Linked DNA regions of Homo sapiens: all the other regions are reported to be linked to region 4. Evidence: microRNA targets listed by miRTarBase, many of them from high-throughput screens and not tested one by one. Region 4 holds a microRNA gene; each other region holds the end of a gene's coding sequence.
The links. The annotated mature microRNA hsa-miR-190a-3p reads CUAUAUAUCAAACAUAUUCCU and lies in region 4 at 2,277-2,297, shown strand. An mRNA with a match to its seed (bases 2 to 7 or 8) in the 3' UTR can be bound and repressed. Matches are read on the target gene's strand: a 7mer-m8 pairs with bases 2 to 8, a 7mer-A1 pairs with bases 2 to 7 and ends in A, and an 8mer does both.

Region 1 (7,492 bases), not on the chromosome of region 4:
TGAAGAGGCTAAAGAGCCTGAAGAACATTTGGGTATTGCAAATAGTAAGTGCAAAGGCACGAAGGCCTGACCTGTTTTGGAGGCAGGGAGGACGGCAGGAGCAGGGTGAACACAGAGGTGATGGGGTCAGAGAAGGGAGAAAAGGGGTGCTTCATGTTTTGCCCAGCATTGAAGGCTATTGTGGACTTTTGAGTGCCATGGTCGTCTATTGGAGAGTTCTGAGGGTTGGTGTGATCTGACTTGGATCTCAAGAAGAACATTCTGGATTCAATGTTGAAAACAAATGGAAAAGGAGAGAGAGCAGGGGCAGAGGCAGCAAGCTCAGGAGAAACAGCGATTAAGTAAACAATGGGTTTACTTGTTCAGTTTTGAGACTTCTTTATGTAATCTAGATGCAACTCATTTATCAGAAATGTTTTGCAAATATTTTTCTGCCACTCTACAGCTTGTCTTTTTGTTCTCCTTATGGTACCTTTCAAAGAGAAGTTCTCAATTTTGATAAAGTACAATTTATCGATTTTTCCTTCATGGATTGTGCTTTTGGTGTTGGATTTAAGAAATCTTTTCCTAACCCAAGGCTGAACACGTTTTCCTTGTTGTCTTCTAGAAATTATACAGTTTTGGGGAACTATAATCCATTTGGACTTTAATCTTTGCCAGTGTTAAGATATGGATCAATTTGTTTTTAATTTTGCATCTGATGCCCAATTATTCCAGCATCATTTTTTCAAGACCTTTGCACCTCTGTCAAAAACCAGTTGTCCACATACATGTTGGGTTATTTCTGGACTCTATTCTGTTCCATTAGACCAATGCACAGCCAGCAGAAGGGACTGATCCCAAAAACATATGAGTGAATGAAGAGGAGTACTGGGTATGAAGCTTCTCATCTTTAGGTGTATCCTAAAGAAGAGTTACTGAACAAACACAGAGAAGCAGAAAAACTCCGGCACTGTTACATATGTGAAGAAAAGTTTCAAAATGATAACTAAACAATGTAAAATGAGGCAAAAAGGGGCCTCTACGTAGTGTTTACGTATGAGTGGTCTTAGAGAAGTGTGTGACTAAGTAGAACTAGATTGCAGAAGGCTGAAAGAGTAATGGCAGGGGGACCTACATATACCAAACAGTCACTAAGGAAGTGGCTAGGCCATCTCTCCCGGGTGAACCTTTCTCTGTGTTCCCCATGGCATTTTATTCATACCTCTGTAATACAATCTTTTGCTCATGCTTCTGTTCCATTCTGAGTTCCTTGAAGGGAGACATCATACCTCATTCAACTACAGTACTAAATACAGTGCTAGAAACAAAACAGACACCAAAATAAAAACATGGAGGAGGAGGGGAACGTTACCCTCTCAGCCCCTTGATACGTTAGTTCTCCTTATCACTACATGTTTGCAACAAGAGTAGCTATGAACTGTGGAGCGGAAGGGGGAAATTAATGGCCAGTTTCTGAACTTGACCATGCAATTTCCTTTGCTGAAAAATTTCAGCTTCACAGATTAAAGATGTCTATGGTTCGAATAGCATTTCCTCTATCACCCCTGCATTTAAAGTAATTAAAAATGCACTTGTTTGGGGGAAAACAATCATGGAAAAAATTCTGAACCTATAAACAAAGAAAAATTAGAAATAGTCTGAAGCAAAAGGATCTCCTCAGGGCACTCAGAAGGAAAAAAACATCACGCAAGTCTTTCCTTTTTATCTGGGACATATGGTCAGGTATGTACAATGGATTTGATTGGTTTTACTCTAAGTATTCAGCTAAAAGACAACCTTAGTGAAACTGACTTTCTGATCTCGTAGCAGACATGCAGAAGTGGGCAGTAGCTTGCTATTGCACAAAATGTGGGGCCTTACTCTTCCCAGTGAGGACGGTCTACAGTTCAAGTTAGGGAGACAGAAGGGGAGGGATGTGTCCTCTGCAACTATGCATTTAAATGTATACATAAAAGGGAGTCGCCACAGTCACATTTAACTGGAGTTGTTTTTCCTTCCTATTATAACATCTGGATTATCTATGCTGGCTAATAATGCATATTTCTGCAATCTTAAAGCAATCTTGCAATAACACAAAAACAAACAAAAAAACTAGACTACAATTAACATTCACTTTATTCAGTTTTGTCCTCTCAACTTAGAAGGCAACAAATGACCACATTAAAAAGGGAGCATTTCAGAATATATATACATAAAATTGGTCTGGGTACCCTAAGGTGTTTGCGTTGATAGAAAATTGACACCCCAAACTAAGTGTTCTACTTAGCTTCTACAATAGTTATTCCTAGACCTTAGATTAGTCATTACATTTTTATTTAAGGTACTATGTTACTTTCATGACTACAAAATGAGGCACTCGTACAAAACAGGAATGAAAACATACATATACTGTCTTGTCTTTATGTCGTATTAATGCCAAAGATATTGTCAGGGATTATTTTAAAGAAGCCCTTACTCATGATGGCTATTTTTAAAAATGGCACAGGACAGTAACAGGCTGAAAAGAAAACACCTGGTTGAGGGGACAAATTAAGTAAATACAAGACAGCTTAACCAAGGAAGTCAGCGAATCTCCACAAATGAGGCTTTTAATAATACTTTACTGGTAAGACATTTTAGTTGGGTTTTTTTTTGATGGCTGAATAACATCCTAAAGAAGTATTTTAAATATAATCTTTTAATTTTACAATGTAGAAAACTTCTCACAGTAAGTAGAGAGCTTAGAGTACTCAACCCTGAAAATGAAAATAAGTAGCTAGCTTGGAAAGTTTTAAAAAGCGCCAGTGTTCTTATGGCACTACATTCTCCTGCACGTGTGCGTGTGTTCACGCACATTCGCAAACGCAATACAATGTAGAACTGTCCAGTGTTTGTTTTGTTTTAAAAAGTCATCAATTCAACCTAAATTCAAGAATTACACTTTAATAGTGGCATTTTGCCAATACAGAAATGACGTATCTTGGATCAAATCATTTTAAGGAAAGTTATTCTATATTACTTGAATAAGGGAAAGAAAATACACAAGACAAGAATCCACAATAATAGCAGTTACATTAAATGTTGAAATAAAAATTACTTTTTGTTTACATCTGGAATTGAGATGGCCCATCTTCATTGTTTCTCCAGAGTACTAAGAGGGGGAAAAAAGTCACCTAAAAACATGGGAAGTTTTTTAAGGCTAGCTATACACAAACGTCACATTGGCATTTTTCTTCAGTTTTCATCTCAACTATTAGTACTAAATAGTTTAAAAATCAAACATAATTTACTAATAATGAACAACTGCACACTTCATACTATGACCGTTTGATAACTGGTCATGTAAAACTATCACCAAATGCTGATTTGTCTTCTATATATAAATAGTAAAAATAAAACAAAAAGGTCTTCTTTCCTAGTTAACCTTCTTGAAGGTTGTTTTAACCCAATATAAAATTAAGCAAAATAATAGTATAATTTAAAAAAAAATTTATGTGAAGAAGGGCAGCAATACTAACATTTTCTGAACTATGGGTTTTCAATATTTAAAAGGCTCTTGGTTAAATACTAAAACCCGGATGCTACCCAAGCAAATATTATGCTGGAAAATGCTTTCCCTATGAAAATACTTATCTCATTGAAAACAACACGATAAAGTACAATTGAAAAACTAGGGGAGAATTCTTAAGTAAGACAATATAAATTACCTGCCAGTAAAATGGAGGGCAATTTTTTGGCCATTCATATTGTTTGTTTACAAAACATTGATAAGATTCATTTAAAATTCTGTAGGATTAAGAATTTTTAACCTTTTGAAGTATCTGCCTAGGATCTCTTGCTGTTAAAACAGATATGTTCCAATGACTTTATACCAAGATCCACAAATTCTTTGAAAAATTAAAAAACAAAACAAAACAAAACAAAAAACCCAAAATTAATATAATCAAGTTGGCCAGGCGTGGGGGCTCACACCTATAATCCCAGCACTTTGGGAGCCCAAGGAGGACGGATCACCTGCAGTCAGGAGTTCCGAGACCAGCCTGGCCAACATGGTGAAACCCTATCTCTACTAAAATAACTAAAATAAGCCAGGTGTGGTGGCACGCACCTGTAGTACCAGCTACTTGGGAGGCTGAGGCAGGAGAATCGCTTGAACCTGGGAGGCAGAGGGTGCAGTGAACCAGGATCGTGCCACTGCACTCCAGCCTGGGCAACAGAGTAAGACTCTGTCTCGGGGGCAAAAAAAAAAAAAAAAAAAAAAAAAAAAAAATATATATATATATATATATATATATATATATATATATATATATATATATATATATATAGTTATATAGTTATATAGTTATATGCTCAATTCAATAATAATGTTTTTCTCCCAAAGAGAGCAATTTAGAAATACACTATGACAGGCAGCATTATATTTTAAAATCCTAATTTTTTATAGTAGGACTAAATTTCTGAGTAAAGGTAGGGCTAACAAAGACCTTATTTCAAATGAGAGAAAAGGCTGCTCTAAAGTGCCAAAGAGTATAACACTGAATCCTATGTCAAGCATTATTTCTGATACTGATTTTTTTTTTTTTTTCCAATTTTGCCTAGGTTGGCCTCGAACGCATAGCCTCGCCTCCTTGTGTGCCAGGACAACCGGCCGGAGCCACCGCAGCTCCCGATACCGATGTTTTTAAAAATATGTTTTAAAGTAATTGCTTACCACTTAGGGAAAAAATTGTTGAAGTATAAAACAGCCAGAACACATTGCTCTTTATTTTGGTAGCTTATGTTTGGCTGACTTGCATATGTTAAAAAATTCTCAGATTTTAGTCTATGGATTTTAATACTATATGAAAATTCTTTTATAGTTTCTGAAGACCTATGTTATACGCTTTCTATGAGAACTTCTAAATTATCGTTCAAAAACAAACACTACCCTTACGATATACCTTTAGCATTAAACATTTAGATCATGTACCCAACCATTCTATTTTTCTAAACTTCTAACCTGAAGCTTTGGTTATGAGGGAAAACAAAGTTTGTAAGGGTTCAGTTCTCTGAGATTTTTCAGAATGTTTCCAACGAAATACATTCCTATGTTAAAAGGCCAGCTCAGCCAAGCTTCCTTCTGGACAAATAATGAATTGGTTTTATTTGAAGTTTTATTCTGTAAACAAAAAGCTTTGGAAACTTTGGGATTTCCTGATGAAAAGCTAGGAGAAATGCACACCTAGTCCTCAGCCAACGAGGCACTAACCAGCGAGACCAGATGTTCTAACCAGTCTTCTCTAATGCTGTCAATCTAAGACCACAACCACATCTATACTTCACAAGCATCTCAGAAGTCCTAAATCCAGTAAGATGCAGTACAGTTGGTGATGTCACTCTGAAAGATTTATGACCTTGCAGGACTTTCGGCCACTGCTACAAAAAATAAACAGATAGTTGTGTGTGGAAAAGAGAGGATGTGGGTGTGGGGTGGGGGCGGGCGGGGGGGCTGACTCATGAAAATCTTCATTTGGACTTTTTTTCTCTAAGTATAGACATGCCCCACTGAAACCCAACTCCCAATGCTGATCACACTAGGAATATTAAATTATCAAAATTAAAAATAATTTCCTCACCTAGCACAAGATACTATACAATATTACAAACACAGACACATGAAAAAAATCAGGCAGTAGGAAATGTACAACAGCTTTGGTGTTATACAAAATAACTTCCACAAACAACTAACAGTGAAGCATAAAGTTCATGTTTTCTTACCACAGACACTCCACTGCTGATTTCTACTTGTTTCCTTTAACGTTCTTGGTAAGGTCTGAATAGCCAAGAAAGAAAGAATGTACAGTTCCCTTAGTGAGAGCTGCTAGGACATCATGAACTGCGTTCCACAAGGCGTCACTGAAAAGTCTTGCCTGCGCACTACTGCTCTGTGGCACGTTTCCTGTCGAGATCACAGCAGGTCCAAAATAAAGTGACAACTAGATTTAATAAATTAATATACATTTTGTTTAAAGATGTACAATGCACATTCTGTTTAATCCAAGGTTTTAGGGTATCAAGGAACTTGTATTTACACATATACAAATCTCAGACAGCAGTAATGTCAGAAGATCCAGGGAGAACAGCAGAATCTTACACCGCTGCTCTCTGAATGCTGAGAACACAAGTCAAATACATTTAACTTAAAAACAACGCTGAGAGATCACTGGGAAAAATCTCCAAAGAGAGAAGTCCACAAAAAAGGACATGTAAAGGGGAAGGTCAAGTTGTTGAGACAACTACTTTATTCTTGGGATGACTGTGGAGGTGGTGGAGATGAGCCTTGTTTGCCAGATTTCCGTTCGTAGTTCACGAGTCGTTGACCCACAAGGTACCTAGGTTGCAAAAACAAGGTGGTTACTCTCTTCTATGAATGTACAGAGTAAAACATTCATATGTCTTTTTAAATCTAACTCCTACTTAAAACTCGTCAATGGTTGGGCAAGTCAAAGGGAGTCCCGAGTGAACACCTGTAAAGGCTGACACATCTACCTAGGTATGGGTTTGTAGGAAGCTGCAGAAGCAGCACAGGCTGGAAGGCCTCCAATGCTGTGCAATGGAGGACATGCTTCAGTCAGTGGTTTAGGGGGTCTCAGAAACTCAGACCTGTGGAGGCCAGGAGGGATACAGTAAACTTATGCAGTGGATTTATCTGTTAAGGTTCAGATTTTATAAAACAACTTAGTGGGCAGATCTAAGGAGACAGACTAAAAACATGACCATCAGAAAGCTAGGAAGGGGCTGGGCGTGGTGGCTCACGCCTGTAATCCCAGCACGTAGGGAGGCCGAGGCGAGTGGATCACCTGAGGTCAGGAGTTTCAGACCAGCCTGGCCAACATGGTGAAACCCCATCTCTACTAAAAATACAAAATTAGCTGGGTGTGTGTGGTCCCAGCTACTAGAGAGGCTGAGGCAGAAGAACTGCTGAAACCTGGGAGGTAGAGGTTGCAGTGAACTGAAATTGTGCCACTGCACTCCAGTCTGGGTGACAGAGTGTGACTCCGTCTCAAAAAAAAAAAAAAAAAAAAAGTAGGAAGGGATGAAAGTAAAACTGGAAGTTCTAGTTACAGAGAAGAAAGGAGAAATCAAAGGAGAAATTTCAGTGAAGTCAAAGGGAAGACAGCATTGCAGTGAGTGAGTATGAGTGACAGGAGGTGGGAGAATATGGTTCAACAACAGAATGGCAAGTGTTCCTAACTTATGTATGTGATGAAAGGAGAAGGCAATGGCAAAGGCCACAGGGCTGCAGAAACAAGGCAGATGTTACTGTAGTTGGAGTGACAGGGCAGGAGATCCTACTCAAGGAGACAGACATCTCCAATGCCAGGGAAGGGCGACAGCTGCATCGAAGGCTCACTGAAGGCCTGCCTTACTTAATGTGAGCAGATGGCTTGCAGGCTGATCCCAAGAGGACAGCAGGGACAAAGCTGGAAAGCAACAAGCTGTAGGTGGCTGGGCACAAGTGTGAAGG
Region 2 (7,415 bases), not on the chromosome of region 4:
TCTGGGCAAACAGCTTTTGTGGATTAGCTAGACTTGCACTTGCCAGCATCCATTGCAGGTTTAAACGATGAAATACACAACTACAGAGAAAACAAACCAAAAAGAGTAATAAAGTCACACATTTCAATATTCAGCAACCATTAAGGGATTTAAATATTTGCTTGCTATTAAAGGCCTGCATTAGGCTCTTCCAACACCAGCTCTGGAAGACTGAAATATCAATTACGGATCAATTTTCCCCCTAAGTAAACACTAATGCAGGATAAACAGTATTAGAAGATGCAATCGTAACATTGCTGACTTCAGGATGGACTTCCTGCTGGTAACAGCAAGTTTAAGCCTGGTGATTAATTAACCTGAGAAGATAGCACTTAAGGAAGATTTGAGGCGGTCACGTCTGAAATATGACTGTGAGCCTGTGCACGTCTGGAGGGCAGCTGAAGTCCCGGGCCCAGAGAACCGGTTGATTTGCCCCTCAGTAGTGGTTCTCACCTTCCCCAGATCAACACTTCGAAGGATTAGGAGGGAGTAAAATGGGAGGCGCAGGTAGGTGTGCATGTGTGTGAGAGAAAAAGCAGTAGACAATGTCAGGTTCCTTGTTGGAATACATTCTGCATTTCAATAGGCAAGGCTCGAGTTGTATTTCCCAGCACTGACCACCAGGGGCAGTAGACATTTTATGTTTTTTGGGAATGAAAAAAATAAATAAAAACATAAAAATGAAACAAAGTTTCCTGTGTACTGAAGAGGCTGGAAGCTGAGGTTTGGAACACCTGAAAACAGAGAAGATTCTTGCTTTCAGGTCTCAGTTCAGGGATGCTCATGTGTAATGATGTGAGTGTTGGGTGGGGGGTGGTGGGGGGGGACTGAATCCTGCAGTTCCTATTAGAGGCACATTTCAACATTTTGAGATAAACACAGATAAGGCAAGGACTATAGTTTGCATTTTTAAAAGAGGCCATATTGCATTCTGAAGGCCCCTCACAATATATGATAGCAATACTAAGGCTTTGCTTGGCCATTACCCAAAATGATATTCCCTGATACTATTCCAGTGGGTCCTTGAGAATGATAGGGCCAATCGCTCTAAACTCAGGACTGGCTGGCTTGTCCCTTCACGGCCAACCTGAAAGCCACCTGTAGTAAGGATGGACATGCAAACATCAAGGTTTGAAATACAGCATCGGTGGCCCATTCAGATTAAGTGTAACGTAAGGCTCAGTCAGCCAGGTGCTCGACTCTTCTCCCTTTAATCAGCTGATACTTGCTGGGTGACTACTGCGTGCCTGACAGGAACTTTAATATGGTATTGACCTACAAGGTCATGGATGAGCCAAGAGTCCCTTCTTTCTTCTCCTGTACGGGGGGCCAGCGCTTCAAAAACTATACATGTATGGCTGTGAATACAAATTTCACCCTGAAGGAATGTGGCTGCCAGTTCTTCATGACAAAGGGCTGCGTATTTGGGATCCTGGCAAAAAGGTGTATTAATCTTGGGCATGATTTTATAATAAAACAAAAATACCTTCACTTAAGCAGGGTCTTTCTACCTGTAACACAGTGGCCACATGGTTTCTTTGAGGTTCTTGATGACAGAATCAAAGGAGCATTTCTCCATGGAGCAAGTCCACAGCGGTAAAAGAATTACATTTCAGGTAGACAGAGGACAGTGAAAGATTGCACCAATTAACACCCGCATATCACCTCAGGGTTCCAGTTGATGTATTTGGAGAATGCCAGGCCAAAACATTTGTGAAAACTCTCTGGGGGAAACGAGGGCCATTTTCACTCTCGTACGCACTCTTCTCAAATGAAGGAGTGGGCAACTTATCAAGATCCTTTGAGCGGGGACGGCTTCTAGCACCTTCTCATTTGCATACCCTGTGGAGCTCAAAAGGCAAATGTACAGCAGTCACCACCTCCTGTCTGCCTCAGCTCAAGGAACTTCTGGGACTTTTTTCTGTAGGGTACAGCTAAAGCTGGAGCCTCATGCTGCAGACAAGAGGGAGAGGGGTGGGGAGACTAAACATACTGCATGCCACGTGGCTTGGAATAAGTCTGCTAATGAATGGTGAAGAGAAAAGGGTCATTAAACCTTCTAAGTCGTGGTTTGCAAGGGCATGATGTGTCTATATGCAGAGGAGCCCTCAGAGCTCCCTCTGAGTAGTGACCGCTTCTTCGTAGCCCTGGGTAACCTTCTATCGTTTTAGTCACCATTTGCCTCTATCCTGTGACTGACATGTAATGAACAAGTAGTGTGTGTCTGGCACCTTTTTGGCTGAGCGCTGACTGCATATCTCACTGATCTTTCCTAACAACCTTCGAGGCTATGGTGATGTCCACCTTGCAGAGCAAGAGACTGAAGCCAGGTAGGCTGGGCTACTCACCCGAGGTTTCACTGCTACATGGTGGGACAGGGATCTGAATGCAGGCAGCCTCTCTCTAGTGTGTGCTTTTGATCCTTATTCTATCTCTCTGGGTCTTTTTATAGAGATGCAATGAATGAGTACTCCCTACTGCTCCTTGCCCTCTGGCAGAGGCTGGGAGAGGTCACTGAAGTATCGAGTCCTCTGCCCGGACTTTTCAGTACAGCCACAAGACCCATCCCACCCTGCACACGGAATTGCTTTCTTCTCCCCATACAAATCAGCAGGCTGGCTGGGCTTGTTGCCCTCTGTACTTTTGACTCACATTCCTTCTCCACGAAACCATCCTTTAAGATCCAGCTGGGGTCCCAGCTCTTTGTGAAGCTGTCTAGGGACTCACCAGCCTTCACTGATTACCCTTCTCCAGAAAATTCTCATAGCACTCTCTGGGCTTCTCTGTGTTCAGTGGGGCACCCATGGCTCAGGGTCACTTCAAGTTTTCAGGTGATGTAACTGATGCTCTACTTGGCCTCCAGAGACCGCCTTATACTTCTCTGCATCCCTCACCATGCTGGACATACAGCAGGTGCTCAATAACTGCATATCTGATTTTTTTTTTTTTTTTTTTTTTTTTTTTTTTTTAACAGAGACAGGTAAGAGACCAGGCCAGGATGGAAGTGGCTCAAGGGGAGATGCACAGCCTTCAGTCTTTCTGGAGCTTACCTTTGCTTTTCCTATGGAACTTTCCCCATGACGTGGCCAAGGGAGAAAAGGGGAACTCATCAACCACAGCTGAGGGGATGGTGGGAAAAGGGCACTTTGGGCCTGGCCAGACGTTATCTGCACATTTATAAGATCGGCCACCATGAAGTGTAGTCATTGCTCACTTCAGCCTGCAAGGCAAGGACGATGACAACAGAGCAAATCCTGCTGTCTACCCAGGCCTGGAAGTCTCAGCAACCTAAACAGCAAGTGAGAACAATCTTCTGCAGGCAGCCAAGCCAGTCCTCCACAGCTCACGTCTTCTTTTTATGAAAGGAGAGAGAACTTTCAAGGAAGAAGGCAGAATGAATTGTTAAGACACAAACTCCCAAAGTAAGAGACAGGTGGAGCAGCCAACACAGGGAAGTTGGTGAGGGTGGGGGGGCGGTGAGAGAGGGGATGAGTGCGGAAGACACATCTACGGGAGCGGCCTGTTCCGGCGGGCCCGCCACGACAGCTCGCACACCTGCACAAATCGCTGAGTCCACGTGGGAGCCCAGACTCAGCCACGGCACAGCACTTGGCTCACCTGTCCACTGAGAGTGGGGAAGAGAACAAGGACAGGAAGGATGAGCGGAGAAGGAGAGAGAGCGCGGCCCCCAGCAACCCAGCCGGCAGCATGTCCTAGCATCTACTGCCAGCGTTCCTGGCCCCGTACATGGTCCTAAGGAGGAAGCTGGGACCAGAGGCCCATCTCTTCTCTCACTCGGAGGCGTCCATAAGAAGTCCATAAAGAGATTAAAGGATCACTTTGTAACATTAATTTTTTTTTATTAAGAAGACAGATATTTTATAGTACTTCTTTTTTTTCTTTTTTTTTTTGTAAAAATGGTATACATGAACCAATACAAAATGCGAATGGGAACATATGGATATGGAGTTTCTTACACTGTAACATTGTCCATGTACACCTTAAAAACAGAACTGGCCTAAAGGGAAAAATAAGACGTCGGTGTGACTAAAGAACAAGCTTATTTGGCATCAATTATACATCCTTCATTATTTTATATTCCTTTAAAAAACACAAAAAACAAGTTTGTTCTTTCTTCACTCTAAAAAAAGTGATCAACCTGTACAAAGTAATACTCAACAATACATTTCAAACAGTGCACTGTATACTTAAGAAAAAATACATAAACCAATATACAACTAAAATCCATAATTTCCTGTTTTTGCTTTGTTTTATTATTATTTTTTCCAATGTGTGGGGCCTACACTTTGCAATCTACCTGAGACGGAAAACACCAATCGCAACACATGAACCTGAGACATGTCAACATTGTAAGCCATAAAGTTACATCAGGAACACTGCACTACTGTACACTTTTCAAAACAGAAAGATGGGAGGTCCCAAAAATGAGATGCCAATTCTGTGAGCAATGGTGTGATTTTTTTTTTTTGTTTTTGTTTTTGTTTTTCTTTTTTTCTAAAAAGAACAACTGAAAAAAAACCTTTCAACAACATGCTAAATGATTCTCACCCTTTGATATGATTATACTATGGTCGGAATGGGTGCTAAGGGCTCGGAATAGAGCTGCAGATTATAAAATTCATTGAAAAAGGGATGTTCATTGTGGCTTTTTGTCTTGGTTAAGTGCCTAGGGATAGGGGAGGGGTAAATAAAATGCTGCTCGATAATGGATTTTCTTTTACATACCAGTCCGTTCCCAAAAGGCCCCCATATTGCAATGGTTCTATCAAAGGTTAAAATAAAGACAAGAAAAATAAACATGTTTTCAAATAACAAAGAGTTGACACTTTTTCCCCCTTAAATAAATCAGCATAAGTTTTCCACATAATGTAACAATAGTAAAAATGCACCTTGCAAAATCCAAAATTACTCACTGAAAATGTAATAGAATATATATTTATATATATATATAGATCTATCTTTTTTGATGCCATCTTTCCATAGGGACTGTTAGCTGGAGTCTGGAGTCTTACCAAACATATGGTAAGAGTTTAGTTTCTGTCCTTCAGGACTACTTCTAGATTTCCTAGACGTTTCAGTGAAAATCCCCACACTTCTTTCTTTAAAACATGTAAATGGTAACGTGACTCCTCTACCTTTTCCCGAGGCTCCCCATCTAAGATATGTTCAAGGTCACTGATTTTAGTAGCTATGCACTATGGCTGCCATCATGCGAGGATCAGTAATTTTTGGCAGATGGTTCTTAAGGCTGAGGAAAGAGGCCAAGGCTAGTGTATGAAAGGTAAAAAGATAAAAACACTCACATTTGAGTTTTGATTAAGTAACTGAAAATCCGTACATGCTGTTTTTCCACCTCTGCTCTGACCTATCGAGAACTGAGAGCGACAGCAGACCAGTGTGAGAACAATACCAGCCCTTCTTTTGTACCTCCTGCCTTTGTCAAGCCAAATCTGAAGGAATGAAAGTTTCACACAGATTCGAGTTGGAAATCCCAGCATGACAAATATCTGTAATATACAGTACATGCAGGCCACATCCTACTGCCTTCCTAACTAAGCACAAAGGAAAAAAAAAAAAAAATCAACTCTGTCCCATTCAGTCATTCGCACAACAGACGAACTTGCTTTTTCCTACAAATTAGTGAGAAGTAAGGCCGATTGGGAAAGGTGGATGGAATCATTTGGAACAGAAACAACCAGAGCAGAACTGTATTTCCCCCCTCCCTACTTCCCCTCCTGTGGCAACTCAAAATTTGTCCACTTATATAAAAGGAACAGACCTCACCTGTCAGGTCTGTTTAGGGCATGGAAAAAGGAGGAGTCCTTTCTGCCCCAAACCTTTCTGGACAGCGTAGGGTATCTATACTGAGCCGTCTACAGATACAGAATTAAAGACAGTGAAATTCAATCTCATTGTGACACACCTCACTTGCAGATAACCCTGTACAGTAATGTAGTTCCACAGCAAACAGAACATTTTCTGAATCACAGTCTAATTTTCTAGTCTTCACTGCTCTAAGTATTTGAAACATGGGCAGCAGCAAAGAGTTTTCATTGTTTGTTCACCCAAATCTTTACGACAACAGAGAAGAATGCATTATGGATACACTAAATTCTGAACTATGAAATCTAAGCTGTGCTGGTTCTCCTTTTATGAAACTGAATTTGGAACAGAAAGCAGTTACCATAAAAATAAACAAAAGTAAAAAACTAGAACAGAAAAGGGAAGGAAAAGAGTCTAAGGAATCCCAGCAGGCAAATTCCAAAATGGGAGATTTTGGAAAAAATCCGAAATTGGGGTAGAGGGAGGAAATAAATGTGCACAAAGGGGGAAAAGAAAGGAACGCAACAAACAAACAAAAAACAAGGCACAGAATTTTCTGCAATCTACTGAAACTAAATCCAAGTATCCAAGTTTGACTTGGTAGGAAGAAATAAAAATTAAACAAACAAACAAACGAAAAAAGAGGTGTCAAACAGCAGAGTGTACTTTCCAAAGAACATTTTTTTTTTTTTTACACAGCAAATCCCAAGCCTTCCCAGTCTCACACCTTTCCACCCATTCATAAAAAAACACACGAATTTCTCGCAAGTTCCAATATCACTGTCTCTTTATCATCTAAATAGGGCCAGTTGGACACCTCATTGAAACAAAAAGGCTGATCTAGATGAAGTACTCTTTCTTTTCTTCGGAGTTGTTCTGTCCTCCTTCTGCATTGATTATAGCTGTGTCTGCGTCTGCTGCGTCATCGGCTCCTTTGGCTTCATGAGTGAAGTATGTACCTGAAAGATGAAGGGGTAAAGCACCGTGACTGTCTGATGGCCTCTGTGTAAAGTGGTACAGAGATGGCAACTTGCTTTATGGCCATCATCAGCCGAAGTGGTGTGCAGGCAGCAGAGGGGAAAAAACAATTGGAAGAAGAGAGCGGGGTGGGTGAGACAAAGGGGGATCCGGGGGTTCCAAAGGCACCACTCCAACTGAACCGCTGCGATATAATTCAGCAAATGAGACATTAGAGCAGTGATTATGACCAGAGGATGTCAGCAGAAGAAGACGTGAGTGGGAGCTAAAAATGCAGAAAGCTGGAGAGGGGCTGACTAACGTATAAACAGTAAACACCAATGACCAATGACCAGATATGTGCACGTACATTGTTAAAGACCAAAGCAAGGAAGAGCAATTAGCCAATAAATGAATTAGGGCCCTGATGATGCTTCTGTTGTCACCTCAGCTCATTTATTTGAACCACCGTCCCGTGTCTATATGAATCATTGTTGCCTACCCATAGGTGAGAAGGTGCTTGAACTTGCACAAGTATGTTTGATTTTCCTGTCTTCCACTTCAGAGTGAGGTTC
Region 3 (7,470 bases), not on the chromosome of region 4:
AGTCCCTCATTTTTTCCCTCTTGAAAGCAAAAATTTGCATGAAAGAAACTGTCCCATTCCCTTCTTTTTCAAAGTAAAAAGAAAATTTTAAAGTGCATGAAAATCCCTATACCTTTAAGCCACCCAAAAGATTGGGCAATTTTGTTGTGGCTTGGCTAGGGATAAGCTCTAACAAAGCTATTTCTTCTTCTGCTATTCATCACTAGTTACTACATATTAAGAAAATAGAATTAAAATATGCTCTTGAATGATTTTTGGAAGTGAAAGGCTTTGCAGTAAGACAGATTTTGAAAAATAGAATTTAAAAGTCATGTAGACAAAAAGCCAAGATCATTTAAACAAAAGAGCATTAGCTGGAAAACAAAATCTGAACATGTGGCAAATAGGAGGGCTTTCTAGTGCCCCATGCTATTTGTATCTTTTTCTACATCATACGGCATCTAGTATGATGTTAACAAATTTAGCTTGTATGATCCCTTTGTGGGACATACACTAAAACTAACTCAGATGGCATAAATTGTTTGATTTTTCTGCAGGGATTCCGACTACAATCTCCTAAAAGCAGAAACAACCTTTTGGGTTTTACCTGTGTTTGAAGAAGAGACTCGCATTTTCCAGAAAGACATTTGATGTTTGTGTTTTATTTCTTTCAAAATATGCCTTGTGGTATGTATGTTGACATGTAAGTGCTTAAAGAAAAGAATTTTAAATTGTGGGAATACGTCTTTGGAGCAAACTTTAATCTCATGTTCTATGTAAAAGACTTAAAAAGTCATACAGTTGCACAAGTAGTTTATGCACTATTTACCCACAAGGAAAAAATTGAAAACATTGTGCCAAACTACAAACAAGTGACTGTACTGTATATATTTTTACTTCTATATCAACATTTGGTTGTATTTGGGGAAGTTGTCCCTGTTAATTTACTAGAAACATTCCAGTGATTCTTGCTATTAACCACCCCCACTTATGTGGATAGCACCTGTAGATCATGGTGGAAAAATATGTTGTGTTACACAATTTACCAAAATTAAAGGATACTGTTTGAAATGTGCCAAATTTTCTTACCTCATCTCACAGATTCACCCACAGTTTAAAGCTCATTAATTATTTTTAAATGGATATATACACACCCAAACATATATATGTATATGTTTGTGTGTGTGTGTGTGTGTGTATATATATGTATATATATATATACACACACACACGTTCTTTTAAAGTTTTAGACTCTACTGTCCTGTGTGGAAACATGAACAGCTAAACAAGGCAAAATAAAGATTTTCTTGTTCCATTGTGTAAGGGTTAAAATTTTGGAAAAGTCTGAAGGCCACAACAGCTAAGTCCATCAGGGACCCAAGTATATGCATTTACAGAACGTTTTACAAGGAAACAAAACAGCTGCTTTCAAAGTTTGTTTTCTAAAAGCAAAATCTGTAGCTGAAAATTATTTAAAGTGCAAAGTTATATTGCTGATACTTTATATCTCAGTTTTATATATTTTATAATAGTCTGGGATAAATTATAAAAATAGCTATAAAATCAACACTAATGATAAATGAAGTATATAGAATGCTTTTATTTAAATAGTTTCCTAAATGTTTTATTCCAGTTTTGTCAAAAGTGCACTCATATCATGGCTTTAGTGTTCTTTCAGTGTTTAATCTTGCAATGCCAATGTCATTTAAAGAAAATGTTAAGGCATCCCAGTTCAACCAAATTTTTCTTCTTATGAGTAAAGTACATTTACTATCAGATAAGATGAACAATTTGTGGCAACAACTGATTTGGGCCATATACCCTTAGTCTGAGGATAACCAATATTTGATGCCACACACTAAACTTAAATCTCAATTTTAAGTACAAATTTTTAAATCACATTTTTTATTCAGTACTCCCCCTACTTTTTAAAAAAAATTTCACAGCCCCAACATTCCTCACTACTACTTTTTCTTCCCTTTTATTCACCACTTGACTTCTAACATTTGATCTCTTTTCTTTGCACAATTGAAGGCCTGTGCATCTGATGACTGATGCATTATGGCACAGATGAGATAATGGATGTGAGAGCGCTTTGTAGATCATAAAGTGCTATACAGATATAGGGGATTAATATTATTAATATTGTTAGTTGTTGTCGTTGTTACTATTCTTATTAATATTGTTACTAACCTATTAACTTGTGAATATATAGGCTGGGGTGGGAGGGTGGAGAATAAGTGGGAAGGGAAAAAGGGGATTTAACAAAAAAAGGGAAGATGTTTCAAAAGGAAAATTTTAAGCAAAATATGAACCTACCTAGTCAATGCCACCTAAATGTATTCACAAACAGAGAAGCAACATTTGAAAGTAGTCAGAGAGAAATGGAAGGAAGCCTGTCATGTATATAAGTATATACACTTCCCGGTCCATGATTCCTTTCACCAGCCTGCTCTATTCCTTACAGCTGGGTCGTAAAATGAACAAGCCTGTGTTCTTGATCATGTGTGTTCCCAGCGTCAGTCTCTTGTGTCTGTGGGGATGAGTGGGTGAGGAGCATTCTGTGAGGCTGGTACAGGCCCATTCCTAGGCTTTAATGCTCTGTTTGCAGTGAGCCCTGGAAAATTACTTAGTGGAAAGGCACCAGATGAAACATGTCTCCTGCCCCATAGCTACCATTCAAAAGGGAAAATAACCAAACTGGAAAACCTTCTTCTATTTCTCTATTCTGATAGCTAGCTGTACTAAATGCTATGGCCAGTCCCTAGAAACTGGTCTTTGTTTTGTTTTTGTTTTTGTTTTTGATTTTTCTGTTTTGCAGCTGAATTTTGGCTTGGAATCACCAACTCTGCCTGTATTGTGATCCCCAAGACTCCAGACCTCAGAGTCACCTGCTGGCTTAGAGGAGTGGAGTGCTTTCTATGTAATGAAAAGGTGGCAATTAATGAAAAAATAAAGAAAATGTTCCATTAATACAATGTGTTTTTATAAAAGTAAATATGGGAGCAGTTGTCCCAGTTTTTTTTCGGTATCAGTTCAGCTTTGGAGAATGGGGTGTGAGTGGGGTAGGACAGCCTGAAACTGTTGGAAACAATTTCCTTGTGAGAACTTGCTATCATAAGTCCTTTGGAATGGATATTCTTTCAGTTGCTCCTATGGAGCCCATTAAGGGCCAATTCTAGGGCATAGTTCATCCCTTTCTCCAAAGAGAATTGTTATTTTAAAGTACCTTTTTAATTGGCCTGCAGTGTATTATATGTTTTTAATATATAAATTAGTGACGCATAACCAGTCACTTTGTACTGAAACATAAAAAGAAACAGAGTTTGAGAAATGAGCAATAGGCCGAGGCAGAAGATGTTTATTCTCTTAATTGCATTTAATATTCCTCTCAGTACATTGTGTTCTGAGATGTTCATCATTTAGCATTTTGTTGGTCCTGTCTCTGCTCTCACAGTTCTTTTTCTTCCTGTCATAACCAGCTGCCTTAGTAGAGTATAAAAATAGTGTTTTGCCCTATCACTGGTATCTCAAGTCAGAAATATATATTATCCTTGGTCTGAAATTCCTGATTACCGCTCCCTTCTAACCTTCCCCCTCTGAGAAGCTGTTTCCTATTAATGCCTCCCTAACAGAGTCCCATTTAATCTTTACTTTCCTGGAAATGGTAACCTCCCTTATTCTTCTTACTTAATCTCAGACCTTGGTCTTAGAATTTTTCTTTTATGGTCTCATATCCCACCTGCCCAAATTGTCAGGGCTCAACAATCTTAGGCTGCTTTCTTCTGGAAGTTCAGAAGGAAACCTTCCCATTCTTAATTGCCTTTAATTGCTTTGGCTATTTTCAAATCTAATTTTTTAATTAAATTTTTTTTAATTTTTATAGAGTAGGGGTACAAGGACAGTTGTGTTACATGGATATATTGCTTAGTGTTGAAATCTGGGCTTTTAGTGTACCCATCACCGAAATAGTGTACATTGTACCCAATAGGTGGTATTTCATCCCTCAAATATAATTTTAAACACACACTCGTGCCCACATGGACAAATTATATCACATGACTGAGGAAACTTAGAAATTCCTTTTCCCTGAAGATCTGTTAAGAATAGGTCTCATCTCCTGCCCTGGTTAGGTGCTATATTATATGGAGAAGGGTATTGAGACTTTGGGGGTCATGTTTGGGCTGTGATAACTGGCTTGAACCAGTGACCATCCTTTCTGCCTCGCCAAGGTCTCTTATACCAGCTTCTTCACATATGCTGCTTCCTCCCAGCTTTCCCTTCTGACTTCTTGTTACTCTGCAACTATGTGTCAAGGCCTTACCTTTTCCTGATGTTTTCAAACCTCCTGCATTACTTTGATCATCACTTCTTCAGCCATCTCACTGAAGTCCTTGGTGCTAGCTGGGCTTTTGTGACAACTTTCACCTTCTCTGAACTTTTTCCTTGCTGGGAAGCATCTGCGTGTGTGAGGGGGCTACGGAGGGAAGTGTGTGTGTGTGTAAGAGAGAGGCAAAAGGATGCTTCAAAAGCTATAAACAACTCTAGCAAGCATCCTAAGTCCTATGTGAGGTTTTGCAGTTCTAGTGAATTTCTGTTTTAGTAGGTTTCAATTAGCATTTACTGCCTAAAGGAGAAAAACCATATCCAAGGACCTTTTAGCCATGCTTGCTATTACCAAGCTGGACCAGTGTGATGTAGATCCAACATGTCTTCAGCTTACAGATGCTCTCAGAACAGTTCCAAGAATTGAAGAGAGCTAAGTTTTTATGCTGAAGAGGAGAATGGAGCACTAGCTAGTCCTAACTATTGCTAGAAATAGAAATGTTTATTTTCTCCTTTATTATTGAGAAATTATCTAATTTAAGGAGTAACCATTTTCATTTAGGGATTTTTTTAATGACTGCCCATCACTACAGAAATATGTTCTTTTTATAAAATAAAACTAATGTGAGGTTGGTTTGTTTTCTAATCATAAAATTCACTAAGCCTATAGTTACATTTAGAAGATTTAGTACCAAAATCAAACTTTTAGTAACAAACAGGAATCTTGTCAACACAATGTAGGCCAGGGATTTTGTAAAGGTTTCTCAAAGACCCAAATAAGGGAGAAAAAAATTTTAGTTGGGCTGTTTAACTTGGGAAACACTGTCATCAGCTTGAGGGTCCTCAGCCAGCATGTGATTATTTTGATGACAGGACTCAGGCTACCCTTTAAGGCACATTTTTTACTCAGCATTAAACACTAGCTACAGTCGTGAAGCAGAGCTCCCATTGCAGCTACATACTTGAGATGTACTCTTGGTTTCAGAATCGTAACTAAGAGGTAAGGCATTGGAGAAGGACAATGTAAAAGACAGAGGTTTAGAACAAAGTTTATGGTGTGAATGAGGCTTTCAAAATCAGTATCTGGGTAAATTGATACTAAAGACACTGAAGAAACACTCATCCACATAAGATGGAAAGGATGTCTGTCCATCTAACAAGCTCAGGGGTTTCTGAGTCTCAGAATGACATCCCATTTCAAAAAGAAGAAAAGAGATATTGAAATCATTCTGCCTGTTTGAGAGATGACTGGTTATTTACAGCACAAAAAAAGGCTTAGAATGAAAACTAGAAGAGGCCTTTTGTTTTTCACTCCCAGTGAGGAGAGTAGAAATCTTAAGATGCTCTACTGGGCTACCTGTAGCACTGACTGGAGTTTGCTGCCTACAGAGTTTTGAATGTACTAGTCCTTAGTTTCCATAGAACTGAATGCACCTCTTTAGTAAGTTGCTGATTTATGGTGCTAAAGAAAATGATTATTCCCATTTTTTTCTTCTTCCCCAAGCCCCTTAAGCATTTAAGAAAATTTAAAATAAAAGCGTTAGAGGCCCTTTTTATGAATGTAACCTAAGTTTCTGTTTGACATATGACACTGCAACTTAAAAATGTTAGGAAATTATTTGCCTTTTTTTTTCTTTTAGAGTTAAGCTTTATAAATAATCTGTAGAATCAATTGAAGTTTAAAGCTTAAGGATCACTCTTAAGACGTCTACAAAATCTTGTATATTTTTAAGTGTGCCAATTTGTAACATATTTTGTAAGTGTATATTTTTCTTAGAAAAGTGCTGTGAAGTGTCTGTATGTGAGAGTTTTCCTTTTTCTGCACCACTAGGTGCTAATAAAAGGATATTTACTTCAAAGTTTCTGGTTTTAGAAACCACAATACAAAGAAAAAAAATACACTTTTGTTGGAAATTTTGTAACACAAAACATGTTGTGAAAGAGTGTAGTGATCTTGTGCAAAAAAAATGAACATTTGTGAGCTTCTTGCTGTTTTATAGATTTTCTTGTAAATTATTCTTGTAACACTTCTGGTTTTGTTGTTCTTGTTGCGAAGGTTTCAAATATTTGTGACTGAATGTACGGTGAAACTGTCATAATGTTACCTAGCTGAGTTTTGTTATTGTTTATGAAATAAATAAAAAGAAAAGTTTAAAATACTGCTTTAGAATCATATGTATTAGAAATCAAACCATTTCTAATTAAATCTATGTCCCAAATAAAACGTTCTTTATCATCTAGAGCAGTGTTTCTCAAACTATCTGTGGTGAGGGACCAATAGTTTTTGCAATCCATCACAGACCAATACTATTATAAAACACAACAAAAATGAATTTCTAAGAAAGTTAAATGGAAAAAAGATATGCAAAATAAAAGCCCAAATGTATTAGATTTAACATGTAAAATTACATTTCGAGATAAACATAACATAAGGGGAAAGAAACGAATTGCAAAAAGTTGGTACCCTGTTTGAGACAAGTCCACTCATCAATGTCAAATTGCCATAGAAGGTTCTAATCATACTTTGAATAATACTTTGACTAGACCAGCAGCATTGCCATCATCTGGGAACTTGTTAGGAATGCGAAATTCCAAGCCCTACACCAATTCTGCTGAATGAGAATCTGAATTTTAACAAGATCCCTAGGTGTTTTGTGTGCATGTTAAAGTTTGAGAAGCACTGGGCTAGAGTTTTGTGTAGGGGATTCTTTTGCCCCTCAAATTGAGGAATCATCTTCTAGTGTGTCCAGTCTTCAAAGACCTTAAAACAAATTGTGTCTTTGTTTTGTGATCCAGATGGAATCTGCAGAGATGCAGTCCTCTCAAAGTGTTAAAGCTGTTTATTGAAAGTAATAAATGCTGATTTGCCTGGTACCCAAAAGATGTCAGATTTTCCATAATTCCCTACAGTTCCTACATCATGTTACTTACCACTCACTCATGAACCTTGTTTCCTTTATTCAGGACTTTCCCGAACTCAGTCCCTACAGTACCCAGTATTTCAAAGTATTTGCTATGTCTAGAAAAATTGAACTTTGTTTTCAATTGCCCAAACTGTTTGAGTCACCCATCAGCCTGGAGTGTTGGCTAACCATAGCAAGATCATTGAGGCACACGTGAGCCAACAGTCACTTCTTTGGTTTTGAACACCACCGCTCAAAGAAA
Region 4 (7,492 bases):
CTCTCTGCTGGACTCTACCTGGGAGTCTTGGGTTGCCTGATATTGTCAGAGTAAGAGCCAAGTGTGGGTGTTGGGACAACTCCATTTTCTGGTTACGCCTTTGTTTCTGCTTTGTCAGTCAAGTTAATCGTGAATGAAAAGTGTACTTTAAACTTAAGAGTCAACCATTAACTAAGATTTAGAGGTTTGGTGCATGATGTTTTTCCATTTCCTTGTCTGATTTATCACGATGGCCTTTCTTGGGGAGGGCTCTGTCCGCTAATGCCGAAGCCATGTCAGTTGACACATTCGTTCTCCTGGAGAATTAGCCTGGTGCTAATTTAACATTAACACTTCACCATATTCTAAGAGCTCCTGTTTCAATGTCTTTCCCTTTGTCCTTCCGCAGGGTCCTTCTGAGCTCTTGTCTGAGTCCTGGTTTCCCCGTGTCTGGTCGTTCACTTCACGACTCCAGATGGGAAAACAAAATTATTAAAGTTCCTACCCCATAGGATTATTGTTATAATAATTAAATAAGATAGTATAAGAACACTGCCTGACATACAGTGAGACTTGGTAGATAGTAACTATATCACCATTATTATCACCATCATCACTGAAAATGTGTGTCTGGGACTTACTCCCTAGGAAATGCCTGAAATAAAAATTATTCCACTGGCCCCTGAAGAAAGAAAACCAGGAAGCTCGCGTTGTTCAGCTGCCAAGCCTGTGCCAGGCAGTCTTCTGGGTACTTTATGGGAGTCACTCATCTGATCCTTGGAAAAAGTCCATTAGAATCAGAAGCACCAAGAGGCGAATTACCTTGCCAGGGTCCGACCACTGTCACTCAGCTGGGAGGGCTATGTATGGCCCTGGGTGGCAGTTTCAGTCCATACCAGCCCCTGTTTCCCACCCCATTGTCAGAGAAGGCTTGTCTAGTCCCACAAAGGCCATTTGTAGTTTATGTGTGCCCTTAGAGCTACTCCTCGAAGGAATATTATGCAGCTATAATATTATGCAGCTATGAAAAATAATGGTTGCTAGGACTGTGTAGCACGAAGAAAATGCTCATGGTATAACAGAAAGGATGCAGAATTATGTACTTATTATGATTACAACTCTAAAAACTCACAGATGAAGAAAATAAGTAGGGAATGTACAAGAATGATGATGGAATTGGGATGATGGAAGGGTCTGTGTTTTAACATTTTATAAAACAAAGGTTTAAAAAATAACAGCACCTTAAAAATTAATGACTGCTGAAGTAGGCCTGTGAGGACTCCCTACAGTACTCTAGGATCATATAGCCTTTGTGTTTACATTGAGGGTTTTTACAGGAAAGCCAAGGAGTCCTTCGGCCAAGGTCAAGGTTAACATAACTGATGATGTGAATCCTTTGTTTGAGGGTTCCTACCTTAGCTCACTCCCATCGTATTAGGAAGGGTGATGGGTACTTCTAGAATGCTTCACAATGGTCTGAAGTCTTTCTCTGCCTGATGGCCAGAGGTGGATATTATCTATGAAACTGTTTTGGAAAACCTGCAACCCAAACCATAGTTTTTGTGCCTAATAGGGCACATTGCAATAACTTTTGCATGAAATATCTTCCTTGCCTTTATAAAGGAATTTATTTCCCCAATTAAAAAACAATAACAACAATCTGCACCAAAATCAGCCAGTCTTTTGAGTTGAATCACTTCTCTCCATTCTCTCCCAAAACCTTAAAAAAATCCTCAGGGTACTGTCAGTAAACAATTGCTTATTACATCCCTATAACCCTACCCTGGTACACACACATGCCTTCAGTATAAAATGGATGTGTGTTCCTTCTGGGGAGTATTCACACTGCTTTCAGGAAGAGTTTGGGGAGAGACAGTAATTTTGTCTAAAATGCTCTGCTCACCACCGTCTCAGGTTGCCTGTTTTTAAAGGAGAATGGCTCATGGTCTTTGATGATGATTCTGGTACATTTCCACCTCAGGCTCTTAAAACTTAAGCATCACTTTTTGCCTGGGATCTCCCAGACATGCACCGTTGAATCTGCTGTTCACCTGGGGAGATGAGAATGTCAGTGAGCGCTGGTGCATGTGCTGACAGTATTGTTAATGGCGCCGTTTCCACATCTGCAGGCAGACTTGTGCTCCAAAGACAGTTATCGGAGTTGCTGCAAAAGTGACCACCCCCTGCAGCCGTAACCTTCAATACTGTGCCTAGTCTCGAGCTCAGTCAAACCTGGATGCCTTTTCTGCAGGCCTCTGTGTGATATGTTTGATATATTAGGTTGTTATTTAATCCAACTATATATCAAACATATTCCTACAGTGTCTTGCCCTGTCTCCGGGGGTTCCTAATAAAGTTTATAAGGCAACAGGAAAGAACACGTTAAAATCACAAGTAGATTTAGAAGATGGAGCACTCATTACAATTCATGTTATCTTCCATTTCTTCTTATAGCATTTGAGACCTGTATCAGTATTACTGGATTACTTGCTTATTATAGAAACAATAAGTGTTGATGTTTCATAAGAGCCTGGGGTATTCTGTGTGGCTTAGTTTTGTGCAGTGATGAATCCTTAAGGAATTCAATATGCTTGGTGGAAAAAACGGTTCCAACCCATGTCTGTGACACAGAATAAAGGTCAGGATTATAGCCTCAAACACATCTAGATTCATGTTTCATTTTGGTTCATTTTTATCCTGATCTTCAATTTAGAAGTTCATGTCAGGGTTTCAGCAAAAATTCAAGGAGCACAGATCAGTTTTCTATGACTTCCCTTTCCACTCACAGTAACAGAATGTATAAAGCAAATCCTCCATACCAGCTGCATGGATACTGAGTCAGTGAGCTTTGTACAAACCTTGGATATAGGACTAAATATATCTCATGAAGGTAATATAATGTTGACTGAACTCTTGAATTTCCTGTTATAGGTTAACTTGTCAGTGGAGGTTGGTAATATTTAGAATAAGCCAACAATCGGAAAGTAATATCATAGCCTAATTGACTGTGGCAGGAAGTTTGGGATTATGATATAGAAAACATTTTTTCTGGTACATAACAGCCTTCTTTGGTTGGTTTTGACCTCTTCCTTATAGAAAAGCCTGTGAAGTATGTGTGAGTTCATTCTGAGTTCTCTCAACAAACAAAATACTTTGTGAGCACTGCTTTCTGGAAAGAGAACTACTGTTCTCAATGTTTTGGAGGAGAAAAGGTGTAAGCAAATGGTTTAAACAGGTAGTCATGAAAGCTTCCCCTTACTGTGTCTAGAAGTCATTGCCACATTGCTTACAGGTGAATGCATAGTGACAGGGTCACCAACAGCAACATCAGAGAGGTGATGACACAGGAGAGGGTCCTGTAATGTTGGAGTCCTGGCTTCTGGAGTTACATAATGGATCCTGTCTCTGGAATCCTTCTCCATTGAGAAGCGATCTGTGTGTGTTGGCAGGTGCTCTGTCAGGCGGGTTTCAAGATGCTGCCCCAATCAGTCCCTCCTTCACACAGCTAGAGAACACCGGCTTTGGTTTTGAGTCCAGTTACATTGTTTGACTGAAATGGCAAATGGCCATGGAAAAGAGACAGCAAGTTATTACGAACAAAGAAAAACATGGTTTCAAAAGGACCTGCAGACGAAGCCCAGTTGTTTGAATTGATGTGATTTTCTTGTTTCTTTGGGTGACTTTGTCACTGACCAGCATGTTCTCTGTAGTGATTAATATGGTGAAGGGAAAAAGGAACCAACTGTTCAGGAAGGAGGAGGACAAATACAGCATTTTCTGTATGGCTGCACTTGGGCTTTGAGTGGCACTCATTGGTTCCAGACCAGGAGCATACAGGGTGTGAAAAGCAAGTATGGGGCCGGGCATGGTGGCTCACACCTGTAATCCCAGCAGTTTGGGAGGCCAAGGTGGGCGGATCATTTGAGGTCAGGAGTTCGAGACCAGCCTGACCAACAGCTGGGTTTCACCCAGTCTCTACTAAAAATACAATATATATATAAATATAAATATATATAAAAATATATTTTTATATATATTAAATATAATTATAATTATATATTATATAATATATTATATATTATAATATATATTATATATTATATTATAATATATATTATAATATATAATATATATAAATATATTATATATATATATATTTATATATATATATAATAAGTCAGGCATGGTGGTGCACGCCTGTAGTCCCAGCTACTCAGGAGGCTGAGAATCGATTGAACTTGGGAGGCGGAGGTTGCCGTGAGCCGGGATCGTGCCACTGCACTCCAGCCTGGGTGACAGAGTGAGACTCGGTCTCAAAAACATAAATAAATAAGAAAAGCAAGTATGGGAGACTCCCCTCCAGGGTAGACCAGTAGGTCCTTGTCAGATCCTTCACAGACACAGAAAGGGGGCTTAAGATGTAGGGAGTTTATCTGATACAGCTTGGGAAGAACCCTGTTATCTTTTGTCTGTGCTTTCTATATCGACATTCAAGGGCCCCTTAAACAGAAATAGTGATTAAAAGATTATTTCAGTGGCGTTGCTTTCCATTTTGAACACAAAAGTAAAGCAATGGATACTATGGGAAAACTACTCCCAAGATACTAATCATGCAGGTGCGGACCTTTTCCAGCAGACACTGCATGAACTCGCGCGTATTCCTCGGATGCGGAGGGTGTGGTCCCTCCCCAGTCACAGGCACAGCCATTTGGCAGTTTCTCTGCCACCCATTTTGCCTGTTTAAGGTCTCTCTGGAGCTTTCCCTGAGACAAGGCCAGCTGTCCATGCCTGGCTCTTAGCAGTTCCAGTTGTTCTGGGAGGTGTACCTTTTGTTTGAACTAATAAAGGTGGCAGTCCTGAAGCCACCCCATCCATGGGTCCTCCAGAGGAGAAGCTGATCTAACCTTTGCACAGTTTGGGGCTTTGCATACAGGCTAAGGCCTCCCTCAAGGCACCTCTCAGTTCAATACCAGAAGCAAACTAGTAGCAGCCAAACTTGCAACAACAAAAAAAAAAGAGAAATGTGGCTGCCTGCTCCACTCCGGCTTCCAACTGGCAGGAAAATGCCTCACTCCTGTTGTGGGAGTTCTAGACACTGGCCTCCTTTTTTCCCTCAAGGACATTTAAATTAAATGCAAAATGTTCACACTTTAAAAAATATATATCCAAGAGGGTTTTTTTAAAGTTTCTGATGCACTATGACCTTATTTTTAGTAGCAGGCATTCTGCAAGACTCTGAGTAACACAGAGCAAAGCCTGAGACCCCACTGGAAAGATGACACGGGTGGTTCTTCAGTTTGTGGAGCCAGTTGTGAGAAGGGCGACCATTGTGTTTTTAGCTCTCAACAAAGCATTCCCTCAAAGTAAGTTTTCAGGGAGGGAGGCAAGCCCTTTGGCCATCTCCTATGCATGCCTTATGCTCCTTCACCTTCAAGTTCATTGGCGGAAGGAGCTGTGGGGTTGCAGGGCATAAGAAAAGGCCAAGAAAAAGACCATGGGAGGACATTCTCTTCCCCTGCCCAACACTTGCCCAGGACCTGACAAGGACAGTGAGCAGGGGAAGTGGGTAAGGACGTTGAGGAGGAGCGGGGGCAGTGGGGGATGTTGGTAAGGATATTGAGGAGGAGGTCAAGAGAAATCAGAAGAGAAAAGGTAGTTCCTGCTTATTTTAGTCACCGCCTTCTAAGAGAAGTTTAATTTGGAACTGTCCATGTCTAGGCAAAAGGACCAGGAAGGTTGAGTTGCTCCTCCAGTGACAGAAAACTGAGTAACTGATACCTGGAGAAAGGGCAGCGAAGACTCCACAGTCACATAGTCAAAGTACAGAACAGTGACTACCACCCGGATTGTCCCACTCCTGGTTGGGTGCTGAGAGAGGAGCTGGTGCCCATCTATGCTGTTTGGTACCTGACGCTTACTGATTTGTGGGTTTTACTTATAATGAATTTAGGCTGTAATCAGAAATAGCAAGAAGAATTTTTATTGGAATTATGGATACATAACAGGGTTTAGACAGAGAAACAGATTAATTTAGCCCCAAACCTGAAAAAAACAATTTTTGATAATGAAATTGCTAATAGTTTTTGAGCATCTCCTATGAGTCAGCCATGCTTTACATATACTAATCACGTGCTTGTAATGACTCCATCAGATAGGTTAGGAGGGGAAGTAGGCTTAGAAGATGAATGAATTAGTGTGAAGACCATGTTCTCAGAATCCATGAAAGGCCAAATGTCAAAAGAAACATGAGGAAAGGCTGTCCCTTTTACCTTCTCCACTTTCCACACCACTTCCCCTACCACCACCATTTCCTCTTCCAGGGGACATATAGCTACTGAAACTTTAAACCCATCAGAGCAACATAAAGGGGTCCCAAATACTCTCCCAACTGGGAAACAGGGGAAGGGAGCCAACCCAATATATAGCCTTTCCCAAGAGGGATCTCACCAGACCACTGACTTTTTAAAGGGTGAGCAAGGAAGGTCAGCATGCAGGGAAGAGGTCAACTACAGGGTACTCAGACCTTTCTAGAAGCTACCAAAAAGCCCAGGTAGGGATAAATCTGTCCTCAGCAAGAGTTGGCCAGACAGCCCAGGAAAGACGATTGCTTAGAGCTGATGGGCACCTGGCCAAATAGCCTTTTCAAATGAAGGGGAAGGGGGAAAAGAACAGTATATCAAAGGAGAAGTTAATTCAGCATGCAGAGGCAGCAACAAACACCTTCATTAGGCAGAGTAGAAGCTTAGTTTGTACATCTGTTCACTCTTTTTCCCAGTGCTGTCTTGTTACATAAGAGTGCCTCTTGGTAAAATGCCACTGTGTTTACATTTGTATGTCCATGCATGACTAAATGTCACAAACTGTGAATTCCAGTTGAAGGCTGCAAGTAGAGTGTACAATTAACAACTCAAGGCCTCAAACAGGGCAGGAACTTGCTCATAGCTGTGTATGCATCTGTCCACCAGGGCTCAGGAGTGGATGCTAATGATGTGGATGCTTACTCTGTGTATTTCTCCTTCTCCTACCTTGTGCGTTGTGCTCTGGCTGAACTCTGGAACTTGGGAAATGCATTTTGAATGGATATATTCATTCAGCAAATGTTGATCATCACATGGGCTCCTCTGCCTGATTTTGTGCTAGAGAAACATAGGTTGAATAAAACACAGTCTCACCCTGGAGGGGATCACAGGCTGGTAGGTTTAAGTTAAATGGTGTTTGTTTTCCTGAGTCCAGGCCAGCATTTCCTACAGAGTAGTGTGTAACCACCTCTGTAAGAAATACAGATTCCTGACTCCCACCCCAGACCTACCAAAACAGCATCTGCATCTTTAACCAGATCCTCAGGTGATTCTGCAGTGAGGGCTATCCATTTATTTATTTATTTATTTATTTTTCTTTAAAATTTTTTTCTGTTTGGTTTTTGAGGGTACATAGTAGGTATATATATATAATATATATTATATTATATATATATAATACATGAGATGTGTTGTTACAGGCATTGTATTAGCTT

Region 1: the mRNA of MARCHF6 is a reported target of hsa-miR-190a-3p. Seed matches in the 3' UTR shown: 7mer-A1 at 4,320-4,326, 7mer-A1 at 4,312-4,318, 7mer-m8 at 4,303-4,309, 7mer-m8 at 4,301-4,307, 7mer-m8 at 4,299-4,305, 7mer-m8 at 4,297-4,303 and 24 more.
Region 2: miRTarBase lists CADM1 as a target of hsa-miR-190a-3p. Seed matches in the 3' UTR shown: 7mer-A1 at 5,821-5,827, 7mer-m8 at 5,004-5,010, 7mer-m8 at 5,002-5,008, 7mer-m8 at 5,000-5,006, 8mer at 4,997-5,004 and 7mer-m8 at 4,990-4,996.
Region 3: miRTarBase lists NEXMIF as a target of hsa-miR-190a-3p. Seed matches in the 3' UTR shown: 7mer-m8 at 1,122-1,128, 7mer-m8 at 1,140-1,146, 7mer-m8 at 1,178-1,184, 7mer-m8 at 1,188-1,194, 7mer-m8 at 1,190-1,196, 7mer-m8 at 1,192-1,198 and 5 more.

The regions. Positions count from the first base shown.
Region 1 is chr5:10,432,458-10,439,949 of GRCh38, reverse strand. It overlaps MARCHF6 (membrane associated ring-CH-type finger 6), which reads right to left. Exons shown (of 26, transcript NM_005885.4): 26 at 1-6,356. The coding sequence ends at 6,266. Among named protein-coding and RNA genes, the nearest start is that of ROPN1L-AS1, 5.6 kb to the left of the region's middle.
Region 2 is chr11:115,169,751-115,177,165 of GRCh38, forward strand. CADM1 (cell adhesion molecule 1) reads right to left here. Exons shown (of 12, transcript NM_001301043.2): 12 at 1-6,842. The coding sequence ends at 6,724. Among named protein-coding and RNA genes, the nearest start is that of CADM1-AS1, 220 kb to the right of the region's middle.
Region 3 is chrX:74,732,565-74,740,034 of GRCh38, reverse strand. It overlaps NEXMIF (neurite extension and migration factor), which reads left to right. Exons shown (of 4, transcript NM_001008537.3): 4 at 537-7,179. The coding sequence ends at 630. Among named protein-coding and RNA genes, the nearest start is that of RLIM, 120 kb to the right of the region's middle.
Region 4 is chr15:62,821,732-62,829,223 of GRCh38, forward strand. MIR190A (microRNA 190a) reads left to right here and starts at 2,226; the gene lies at 2,226-2,310. The region is part of intron 54 of TLN2 (talin 2); the gene reads left to right.